2 separate regions of the Homo sapiens genome follow, and region 2 is linked to region 1. Evidence: fine-mapped expression QTL. A gene starts in region 1. The other region holds a variant in brackets. All regions are shown on one strand. Distances are between the middles of the regions.

The links. PIP is the estimated chance that this variant, and not a neighbour inherited with it, causes the effect. A credible set is the group of variants that fine-mapping cannot tell apart.
Region 2: its variant is the best candidate, but not a certain one, in a credible set for the expression of CDCA7 in monocytes (CEDAR, PIP 0.55).

The regions. Positions count from the first base shown.
Region 1 is chr2:173,352,798-173,358,179 of GRCh38, forward strand. CDCA7 (cell division cycle associated 7) reads left to right here and starts at 2,075. Exons shown (of 10, transcript NM_031942.5): 1 at 2,075-2,187. The coding sequence starts at 2,167. RefSeq lists enhancers at 1,119-2,074, 1,377-1,466 and a silencer at 2,017-2,286.
Region 2 is chr2:173,325,999-173,331,380 of GRCh38, forward strand. No RefSeq gene overlaps it. Among named protein-coding and RNA genes, the nearest start is that of CDCA7, 26 kb to the right of the region's middle. The variant T/C (reference allele first, on the strand shown) is at 3,131.

The DNA of each region.
Region 1 (5,382 bases):
GCCAGTCTGAGTGAAATTGTATCTCCTGTGTCAGAGGCATTTGAACTACAGCAACTCCATCTTGAATAGGAGCTGGGCAAAATAAGCCTTGAGACCTGCTGGGCTGCATTCCCAGGAGGTTAAGGCATTCTATGTTACAGGAAGAGGTAGGAGGTCAGCACACGACACAGGTCATAAAGACCTTGCTGATAAAACAGGCTGCAGTAAAGAAGCCAGCCAAAACCAAGATGGCGAGGAGAGTGACCTCTGGTTGTCTTCACTGCTACACTCCCACCAGCGCCATGACAGTTTACAAATGCCATGGCAACATCAGGAAGCTACCCTATATGGCCTAAAAAGGGGAGCCATGAATAATCCACCCCTTGTTTAGCATACAATCAAGAAATAACCATAAAAATGGGCAACCAGCAGCCCTCGGGCTGCTCTATCTACGGTGTAGCCATTCTTTTATTCCTTTACTTTCTTAATAAACTTGCTTTTTCACTTTACGGACTTGCCCTGAATTCTTTCTTGTGCAAGATCCAAGAACCCTCTCTTGGGGTCTAGATCGGGACCCCTTTCCAGTGACACTTGTTTTAATTTGCATTTTCCTGATTACTAAAAAGACGAATAGACCAGAGATCTTATCCTTAAAAAACACATACACCAAATTATTTTCTTGTGCTCCCAGGAAGACTAAAAATTTCCCTATCAGAACCTTTCACAGGCAAAGTGACTTAATCTTCCCCTGCTTCATGGATCTAGTAATTCCAAATTTTCATATATTTAGCTTTAGTGGCACAAAATTATATTCCCAAATGTTTATTCATTCAACAAATACTTACTGAGGGCCCTGTAATTCCGTAATTTCACCACCCACCGATAGCCTCTCCTCCTGGCACTCACCTTCTAGACCTTGAGCTCTTTGTCCCTTGCACAGTGGCAGAGTGATTACTGGGTAGGTATATTTAAGAAAGGCTGGAAGACTCCTTCCAATCCATTGTCCTCGGGCATTATTTACTTGCTCACAGTTTTTGTATTCAGTACACCAAGAGAGGAACACAGTATGTCCATGCACTCTCTTACTGCAAAGGAATTAATTATTCCCCAGAGAAAAGTTTTGAAATGAGGGGGAAATGCGAATGTTTTCATTTCAAGCGCTTGTTTTAAATGTTAAGAGTATAATTAGTGTCTTCTAAAGAAACTAAATTTACTTTTTCTTGTAGAAGCAAGTTTTGCTCTTCACGCACACAAAAAGCCTCGCTTTATTTCATTTTTTCGTTGTAATGCCAAGTTTGGTTAAAAGGGCAATGAAAAGTTTTCTCGTTCGCACTGACTCAGGGTAGTTCTCAATTCTGAAGACAGAGAAGATCATCAAGCCACAATTGTTCAATCTTTAGTTTCAATCCCCAACAGATAATCGTTAAAGGTTAACTATACTATAGACGTCTTCATCAAGCTGCTGCGGCTTTTCTTCTACTTTGAAAACCACAAGTAAACAAGTCGGCTTCCTGTGCTTTTTGGAAAGAAAGATCAGGATTTAACTCATTTTATTGCTTCAGATAATGGTGTGGTTCCCAGATAAGAGGTGCTACATCCAGGGGCGGTGAACTCGATTATGAAGGGTGGAGTTCGTGCTGGATTCTATGATTTTTTAAATCTTGTAAACCGCACGCAGCAATGAAAGTGCTAAACGCCATGGTGCGTGACCCGCGCCACCCTCACGCTGCTCTCCTTTACCCCCCAGACTCCACTTTTCCTCCGCCACCACGAAAATTCTTGCAAATCAGACAGCTAACCCCGGGGCAATACGAACCATTTTCGCGCCACTCGCTCAGGACCGCGCAGCTGCACAAGGAGAGTGGTCCCCGTAGCCCCTAAAGCCCCCCTTTCTCAAAGGGGATTTTAGGAGTGCCCAAGGCTATCCTTTGAGGTCAGAATATATAGGGGGGTCGTGTTTTTTCCAGGGGGCCACCTAGTCTTGCGCCATGTCTGGCCGTTACCACAGCTTGCAGGACCTGTGTCCCAACGCGGGAAAGACAGCCCGAGCCCCGCCCCTCCGGGCCCGGGTCGGCGCGCCCAGCCTGCCAGCCGCGCTGCTGCTGCTCCTCCTGCTGTGGGACCGCTGACCGCGCGGCTGCTCCGCTCTCCCCGCTCCAAGCGCCGATCTGGGCACCCGCCACCAGCATGGACGCTCGCCGCGTGCCGGTGAGGGCTGGGCGGGCGAACCCGAGGGGCGGGCGCGGTGGGTGCTGGACGCAGGCGGGCGCGGGCCGACCCTCTCCAACTCCGCAGCCTAGCGCTGCCTTAACTGGTGGCCTGCCTAGGCGTTGCCCGCTTGGGCAAGCCCCTGATTTTGTGCACCTGGGATAACTGAGGGCCATGGGGACGTTCCTGCGTGGCGTGCGCACCCGAAGTGCGGGCGGCGTGGAGACTTGAGTCGTTTGCAGGATGGCTAGCAGCGCTGGAAAGCCCTAGGCACGTGCGTCCGCCAAAGGCCGGACAGCGGCCGGGAGCGCTGGCCGGTCCCGATTTTGCCTGCCAGGCAGAGCCAGCCTGCCTGCCCCCTGGGAGGTTGTCCCGCAGCGGCCCAGCCCTTTCCCGCACACAACTCGGAGCCAGTGCGTGGCTCGCCGCGTCTATACCCGCGCTCAGTGGGTGGCCCTTGGGCGCGCACCCCGCCCGGCAAGAGACGCGTCCGCTTCTAACCGCTGAGGGCCAGCGCGTCTGAGGTTTAAGGTCTTGCGAACCGGTCTCCTAGAACTTGGGCTGCGCACGCAGTGTGAAGCGACCGTAGTCCCGGGCGGTGGTTAAGTGCATTTAAAGGGCTTGGTGGGTCAAAGCGTTCGCCGACCATTTGCTCGTTTCCTACTTCCTCCACCCCAACCCCCAACCCCCCACCCCCCACCCCCCAGCCTTACTCTTAGCTGCAGGACGTTGCTCTGAGTGGAACGTTACTTTTTGCTCTAACGGAAGCCAGAACGTAGGGTCGGGCTCCTGGAGAGGGTAGAAGAGTGGGGGTTGGGTGAAACGGAAGACAATGACATGTTTAAAATAAATATCAGGGGTTAGGGACCCTCGCGGGGGTGGGTGCGATGGGGCGTGGTTTCAGAGCTGAGTCGCCGCCCCGGTGGAGCTGGGCATTGGCTTTCCGGATGAAGAAAACCATGTGTAGCTGGTCTTGGAACCTGACATGCCTGAGTTCAAATCTGAGCCACCATGGGACTTGAGTAATCCATTTCGCTTTCCTGAGCCTCAGTTTCCTCATTGGCTAAGTGAGAATAACGATAGCACCTTTGTTGCAAAGAATTAAACCTGACGTGAAAGTGTACTTAACATAGTGCCTGGCACGAAAAACGCCTACTATAAATGGTATTAGTTATTACTTACCTGCCAAAGAAGTTCATCTCCGTCTTGACTATTTGCCTTGCTGCTTTTTTGTGGCTTTTCCTCCAAAGATACGTTTGCCTGGTAAATAACTCTTGGCTTGTGCTGACTTGTTAAAGCTCAGCCTGTATTTCTCGGACAGCTTCCAATAGAATGCCGCCTTTGAGGCTGTCTGGGGCCTCTGACTGCTTGCAGGTAGATTGATGAGTAAAGGGTGGTAATTCCTGCAGTAATGCGATGAACACTGCTGCTTAAGAAGATGGCAGACTTGAGTTCTCCTTCCTGCCCCTGTGATCTTGCAGTCTATTACACCTTCCTGGGGCCTTGAATATCCTCATCTGGAAAATGGGATCTGAGATCCTTTTCAGCTCCCAACATTCATTGTGTCCCAGGCTGGAGTGCAGTGGCACAGTCACGGCTCACTGCAGCCTACCGGGCTCAAGCAGTCTTCCCACCTCAGCCTCCCAAGTAACTGGGATTACATGTACGCACCGCCACATCCGGCTGATTTTTGTGTTTTTAGTAGAGACGGGGTTTCACCATATTCCCCACGCTGGTCTCGAACTCGTGGGCTCAAGTGATCCTCCCACCTTGGCTTCCCAAAGCGCTGAGATTACAGGTGTGAGCCACCCCCCTACACATACACCTAACCTTTATATTTAGTAGCTCTACCTTTTACACGTTGTCCTGCCTTGTTAAGAGGGCAAAAGACAAAAACTTCCTAAGATGATTGAACGGAGTTTACTTAGGGGTATAGGGATGTTGGGAGTGCCATCATCATGAAAATAACTTTATCTGCAAGAGACTGAAATGCGTAATGTTAGGCCAAGAAGGAGGGCAAGAATGTTCTGGTCACCTGACATCTTACATCTTAGCATATTTTGTAGAATCTATACCAGAGCTTGCCCTTTCAAAGTTTTCAGTGTAAGGAATCACTTCTGCTATTCCATGGCCCCATTTAAGGAATAAAAACACAGGACCTAATGCAACACTTAGGAAATCTCGTTAAATATTAAGAAATGACAAACCACTATCCTTTTTTTATACAAGATAGATGCCAATTACATTTTCTGAGAGCAGTGCCAGGCTGTTCAGTATTTATGAATGAATGAAGCATTTCTATGTAAGTAATTTGCACTTTATAAAAGGACTTTTAAAAACTTAAGTCTTGTATAGCAAAGGGACAGCAACAAGAACTGAATGACAGCCTCAAGTAATAGAGTGCTAAAATGGAATCCGGTATCCCACCTGCATTTGGAGTGCTATTTGATCTTTAACTTGGCTCCTTGTACCATTTGTTGAAGCGTTTGATGTATTTGCTTTGTAAGGACTTCTGTGGAAATCACGATAGCCCTCTTGATTGGAAAGGGGCCTGCTTGGAAGCCTGCCATCTTGAAGTAGAGGTCCTGCCCAGTTTTTGTAGTTTGTGAAATTAGCATCACAGTACATAGCCCAAAGCTTACATAAAAATACCTCATTAGCTTGATTTTGGCTGAGGGAGAAAAATCTTTCTCCCCTTTTGTACTTTTGAAATTTCCTTTTAGAAGTACAGTTTAATTTTTTTAAAAAAACAGGTTGGATTTTAGGAGTTTAGCATTAAAATCTCCTGTGGGGCTCAGTATAATGCTAAGAGCTAAAGATTAGGGGCTCATAAAGGTGGGTTGAGAGGTAGCTCTACAGATGTTTGAATAAATTGATAAATGTCTTTACAATTTTCCTGCAAAGGGATCCCTTCTTAGAATTTGACCTGGTTTTGGCCGGGCGCGGTGGCTCACGCCTGTAATCCCAGCACTTTGGGAGGCCGAGGCAGGCAGATCACGAGGTCAGGAGATTGAGACCATTCTGGCTAACACGGTGAAACCCCGTCTCTACTAAAAATACAAAAAATTAACCGGGCGTGGTGGCGGGCGCCTGTAATCCCAGCTACTCTGGAGGCTGAGGCAGGAGAATGGCGTGAATCCATGAGGCGGAGCTTGCAGTGAGCCGAGATCGCGCCACTGCACTCCAGCCTGGGCG
Region 2 (5,382 bases), 27 kb before region 1:
TATGTGTAATTGTAACAAGTAATAGAGGTCCCATGTACCCTTTACCCAGTTTTCCCCAGTGGTAACATTTTGCAAAACTATTCACAACCAGGATATTGACATTGATACAGTGAAGACAAAGAATATTTCCATCACCACAAGGATGTGTCATGTTGCCTTTTTATAACCATGTCCACTTTCCTGCTGCCTCTATGCCTTCCTTAACTCCTGGCAACCACTAGTCTCATCTCAATTTCTATAATATTTCCATTTCAAGAATATTATAGGGTCAGGCATGGTGGCCTACACCTGTAATCCGAGCACTTTGGGAGTCTGAGGTGGGAGGATTGTTGACACCAGAAGTTCAAGACCAGCCCAGGCAACATAGTGAGACCCTATCTCTACAAAAAATATAAAATTAACCAGGCATGGTGGTGCACATCTGTAGTCTCAGTTACTTGGGGGTTGAGGCAGGAAGACTGCTTGAGCCCAGGAGGTCAAGGCTGAAGTGAACCATGATCACACCACCACACTCCAGCCTGGGCGATAGAATGACACCCTGTCTGAAAATAACAACAGCAAAAAGAATGTTACATAAATGAAATGATACAGCACGTAACCTTTTGGAATTGGTTTTTTTTCACTCAATATAATTCTCGTAATGCATTATTGTATGTATCAGTAGTTTGTTCCTTTTCATTTCTGAGTAGTATTCCAAGGTATGGATGTATCATGGTTTGTTTAACCATTCATCTATTGAGAGATATTTGAGGGCATTTTTTCCTTCAATTTTTGACTATTAGGAATAAAGCTGCTATGAAAACTCATGTACAGGTTTTTGTGTGAACACAAGTTTGCAATTCTCTGTTTTTCTCTTGGTTTTTCTCTTAAGGCCATTTTCTTTTCTTTTTTTTTTTTTTTGCAATGGCTTCCCCTTTGAAAGCATACTTTTGCTGTTTGCTGTTTTTTGGGCAGCCAGTCTCTTCTAATGGGTCTGGTGAGATTTATTGCAGGGAAATCTCTGTGACTAAGTCATATGGTAGTGTCATGCTTTGTTTCTTAGGAAACTGTTAAAATGTTTTCCAGAGTAGCTGTCTCATTTTCTATGCCTATCAGCAATGTATAAGTGATCCAGTTTCTCTACATCCTCACCAGCATTTGGCAGTGTTGCTATTTTTAATTTTAACCGTTATGATAGGTGTGTAGTGATATCTCATTGTGGTTTTAATGTACATTTCCCTAATAGCTAATGATACCAAAGATCTTTTCATGTGCTTACTTACTATCTGTACATCTTGTTTTTTGTGGAGTGTCTCTTCATGTGTTGCACTTGTTCTGATTGGATTGTTTACTTTTTTTTTTTTTTTTTGAGACAAGGTCTCACTCTGTTGCCCACGCTGGACTACAGTGGCATGATCTCAGCTCACTGCAACATCTGCCTCCCAGGCTCAAGCAATCCTCTTACCTTGAAGCAGAAGATGCAAGAAGAAAAAAAACAAACTTTCTTCCTTTCCTGTGGTATGAACAGTTTCCCCCTTGAATCCCTCCCCACCCCGTGCAATTGTATCCTGCACTGCAAGTTTTGAGCAAGCTTGAGAAAGCTTAGACTGTAGCCATCTGGGTGCCATAGGGAAGGACACGAGATAAGATTATGCGGGCATCTTCAGCAAGCCTAGATAACAGCCACCTGGCCCGCATAGCAAGAATCACATGAAAGCCTGAGTTATGAGCCTGTTGCTGTTTAATAAACTGCCTTTATTCTGCTTCTATAAACCTGCTTTCGCACCACTGCATTTTGCACCACTGATGCATGTATAAAAGTCAAGCCAAGTCTTTGTTTGGGGCTCAGCCTTTTGGATGCAAATCTGCTGTGCCAGTGCACCTAAATAGAATCCTCCTGTTCCACCCATTGGTTTCTTCAGTTCCTTGGTTCCTGCAACAACCTCAGCCTTCTGAGTAGCTGCGACTACAGGCACAGTCCACCATACCCGGATAATTTTTATATTTTTTGTAGAGATGGGGTTTCACCATATTGCCCAGGCTGGTCTCGAACTCCTGAGCTTAAGTGAGCTACCTCTCTAGGCCTCTGAAAGTGCTGAGATTATAGGCATGAGCCACCATGCCCAGATGGATTGTTTACTTTGTCACTGTTGAGTTTTGAGAGCTCTTTATACTTTCTAGATACTAGCCCTTTCTCTGATATGCAACTTGCAAATACTTTCTTGCAAACTGTAGCTTGTCTTTTCAAACTTATAACAGGATCTTTAGCAGTGTGTAATGGTTTTAATTTTGATGAAGTCAAATTTATCAATTTTTCTTTTATGAATTATGATTTAATGTCAAGTCTAAGAACTCTCTACCTAGCTTAGGTCCTGAAGATTTTCTCCTATGTTTATTTCTAAAAGTTTTATAGTTTTACATTTTACAGTCAAATTCATAATCCATTTGGAGGTCATTTTTGTATAAAGTATGAAAAGTGGGTTGAGGTTCATTTTTTTTTTTTTTTTGCCTATGGATGCACAATTCTCCAGCACTGCTTGTTGAAAAGGCTATCTTTCCTTTATTGAATTGCTTTTGCAGCTTTGTCAAATATCAGTTAGGTATATTTGTGGTGGTCTATTTTGGGGTTCTCAACAGAAATTCCACTGATGTATGTGTCTATCCCTTCACCATACCACACTCTGATTCTGATTACTATAGCTATATGGTAAGTTTTAAAATTGGATAGACCAATTTCTCTCCATTTATTCTTTTTGTTTGTTTGTTTTTGAGACAGAGTCTTGCTGTTTCTCTCAGGCTGGAGTACAGTGGCTGTGATCTCGGTTTACTGCAACCTCTACCTCCCAGGTTCCAGCGATTCACCTGACTCAGCCTCCAAACAAGCTGGGATTACAGACATGCCACCACATCTGGCTAATTTTCTGTGTTTTTAGTAGAGATGGGGTTTTACCATTTTGGCCAGGCTGGTCTTGAATTCCTGTCCTCAAGTGACCCACTCGCCTCAGCTTCCCAAAGTGCTGGGCTTATAGGCTTGAGCCACCAGGCCCAGCCCCATTTATTCTTTTTAAAAATTGTTTTAGCTACTCTACTTTCCTTCCTTCCCTCCCTCCCTTCCTTCCTTCCTTCCTTCCCTCCCTCCCTTCCTTCCTTC[T/C]TTCCTTCCCTCCCTCCCTCCTTCCTTCCTTTTTTTTTTTGTTTTGATACAGAGTCTCCTTCTGTCACCCAGGCTGGAGTACAGTGGTGTGATCTCAGCTCACTGCAACCTCTGCCTCCCAGGTTCAAGCGATTCTCCTGCCTCAGTCTCCTGAGTAGCTGGGACTACAGGCGTGTGCCAGCACGCCAGGCTAATTTTGTATTTTTAGTAGAGGCAGGGTTTCACTATGTTGCCCAGGCTGGTCTTGGCACCTGACCTCATGTGATCTACCTGACTTGGCCTCCCAAAGTGCTGGGATTACCAGCTTAAGCAACCGCACCTCGCCTGCTTTTTATTTTCTATACCTTCAAAAACTTTGCTGGTATTTGGCTAGGAATTGTATTAAACTGTATATCAATTTGAGAACTGATATCTTTAGTGTATCAGATCTCTAACTCAATAACACAGTATTTCATTTGTTTATATATTTTTAAATTTCTCTCAACAACATTGTGTGGTTTTCAACATGTAAGTCCTGTACACATTTTGTTAGATTTACACCTATTTCTTTTTTATTGGTACTATTGTGAATGATAATGTATTTTTATTTATTTATTTTTAGGAGTCAGGGTCTCATTCTTTCGCCCAAGCTGGAGAGAGATGGTGTGATTATAGCTCACTGCAGCCTTGAACTCAGGTGATCCTGCCACCTCAGCCTCCCAGTGTGCTGGGATTACAGGCATGAGCCACCACACTGGCCAGTAATGTATTTTTCATTTCAATGTCCATGTGCTCATTGTTAATATATAGAAATACAATTGATTTTTTATATTAACTTGTTTCCTGCAATCTTGCCATAAATATTCATTCTAGAAAGGTTTTGGGGTTTTTTTGTAGATTTCTTGAGACTTTATACATAAATAATCATGTCATCTGCAAATAGAAACAATTTTATTTCTCCCTTTTTGAACTGTATGGCTTTTATTTCTTTTTCTTGCCTTATTGCACTGGCTAGACTTCCAGTACTGTATTAAATAGAAGTAATTAGAATGAAGAATGGACAACCTTGCCTTTTCCCAACTGTACAGAGTAGGATTCAGTCTTTTACCATTAGGTGAAGTGCTAGCTGTGGGTTTTCTGTAGATGGTCTTTATCAAGTTAGAAAGTTTCCCTCTTTGAATATTGGTCTGTAGTTTGCTGGGTTTTGTATTGTCTTTTTCTGCTTTTGGCATTATAGTAATACTTATCAAATAAGTTGGGAGGTGTCTCTTCCTTTTCTATTTTCTGGAAGTGATTGTATAGAATTGGTGTTAATTCTTCTTTAATTTTTTGGTAGAATTTCTCTAAACTATCCAGGCCTGGTTATGACTTTTGGGGAAAATTTTAAAATTACATCTTCAATTTTATTAATAGTTATAGAACTATTCAAACTATTGATTTCGTGTTTGGTGAGCTGTGGCAATTTGTGTTTTTTGATAAATTGGTCCACTTTATCTAAGTTGCCAAATTTTTGTCTGGCAGGTTTGTTAATAGTATTTCCTTATTTTCCTTGTGTTGTCTGCAGAGTCTGTAGTAATATCCCCTGCTTCACTCATGATATTGGCCATTGTGTATTCTCTTTTTTCTTTGTCAGTCTAAAAAGAGATTTGTCAATTTTATTGATCTTTTTGAAGACCCAGCTCTTCCTTTCATTGATTTCCTTTATTGGTTTCCTGTTTTAAATTTCATTGATCTATACTTGAATCATTGTTCTTTTCTTCTGGATATTTTTGGTTTTGTTTGCCCTTATTTCTCAGAGTTCTTGAGTTGGCAGCTTTTATTACTGATTTGATACTTATCCTCTTTCCTAATATATGCATTTAGGTTATTAATTTCCCTATCAACAGGGAGTGTCTGGCACATTTTAATATGTTGTATTTTTATTTTCATTAAGTATTGTGTATTTTCTAATTTCCCTTGGTACTTCCTTTTTAAGGATTATTTAGAAGTGTGTTGTTTAGTTTCCAAGTGTTGGAAGATTTTCCTCTTAGTTTTACGTTATTCATTTTTAGTTTGATTTCATCATGGTAAGAGAACACATTCTGTGTGATGTACATTCTTTTAAATGTCTTAGGGATTGTTGCTCTGACCTACGATATGATGTATCTGCTTATGTTTGCTGAGCACTTGAAAAGAGAGTGTATAATGTTGTTATTCAGTGAGGTATTCTATAAAAGTTACTTAGCTCTTATTGGTTGATGATGTTGAGTTCTTCCATATCTTTGTTTTCTGTC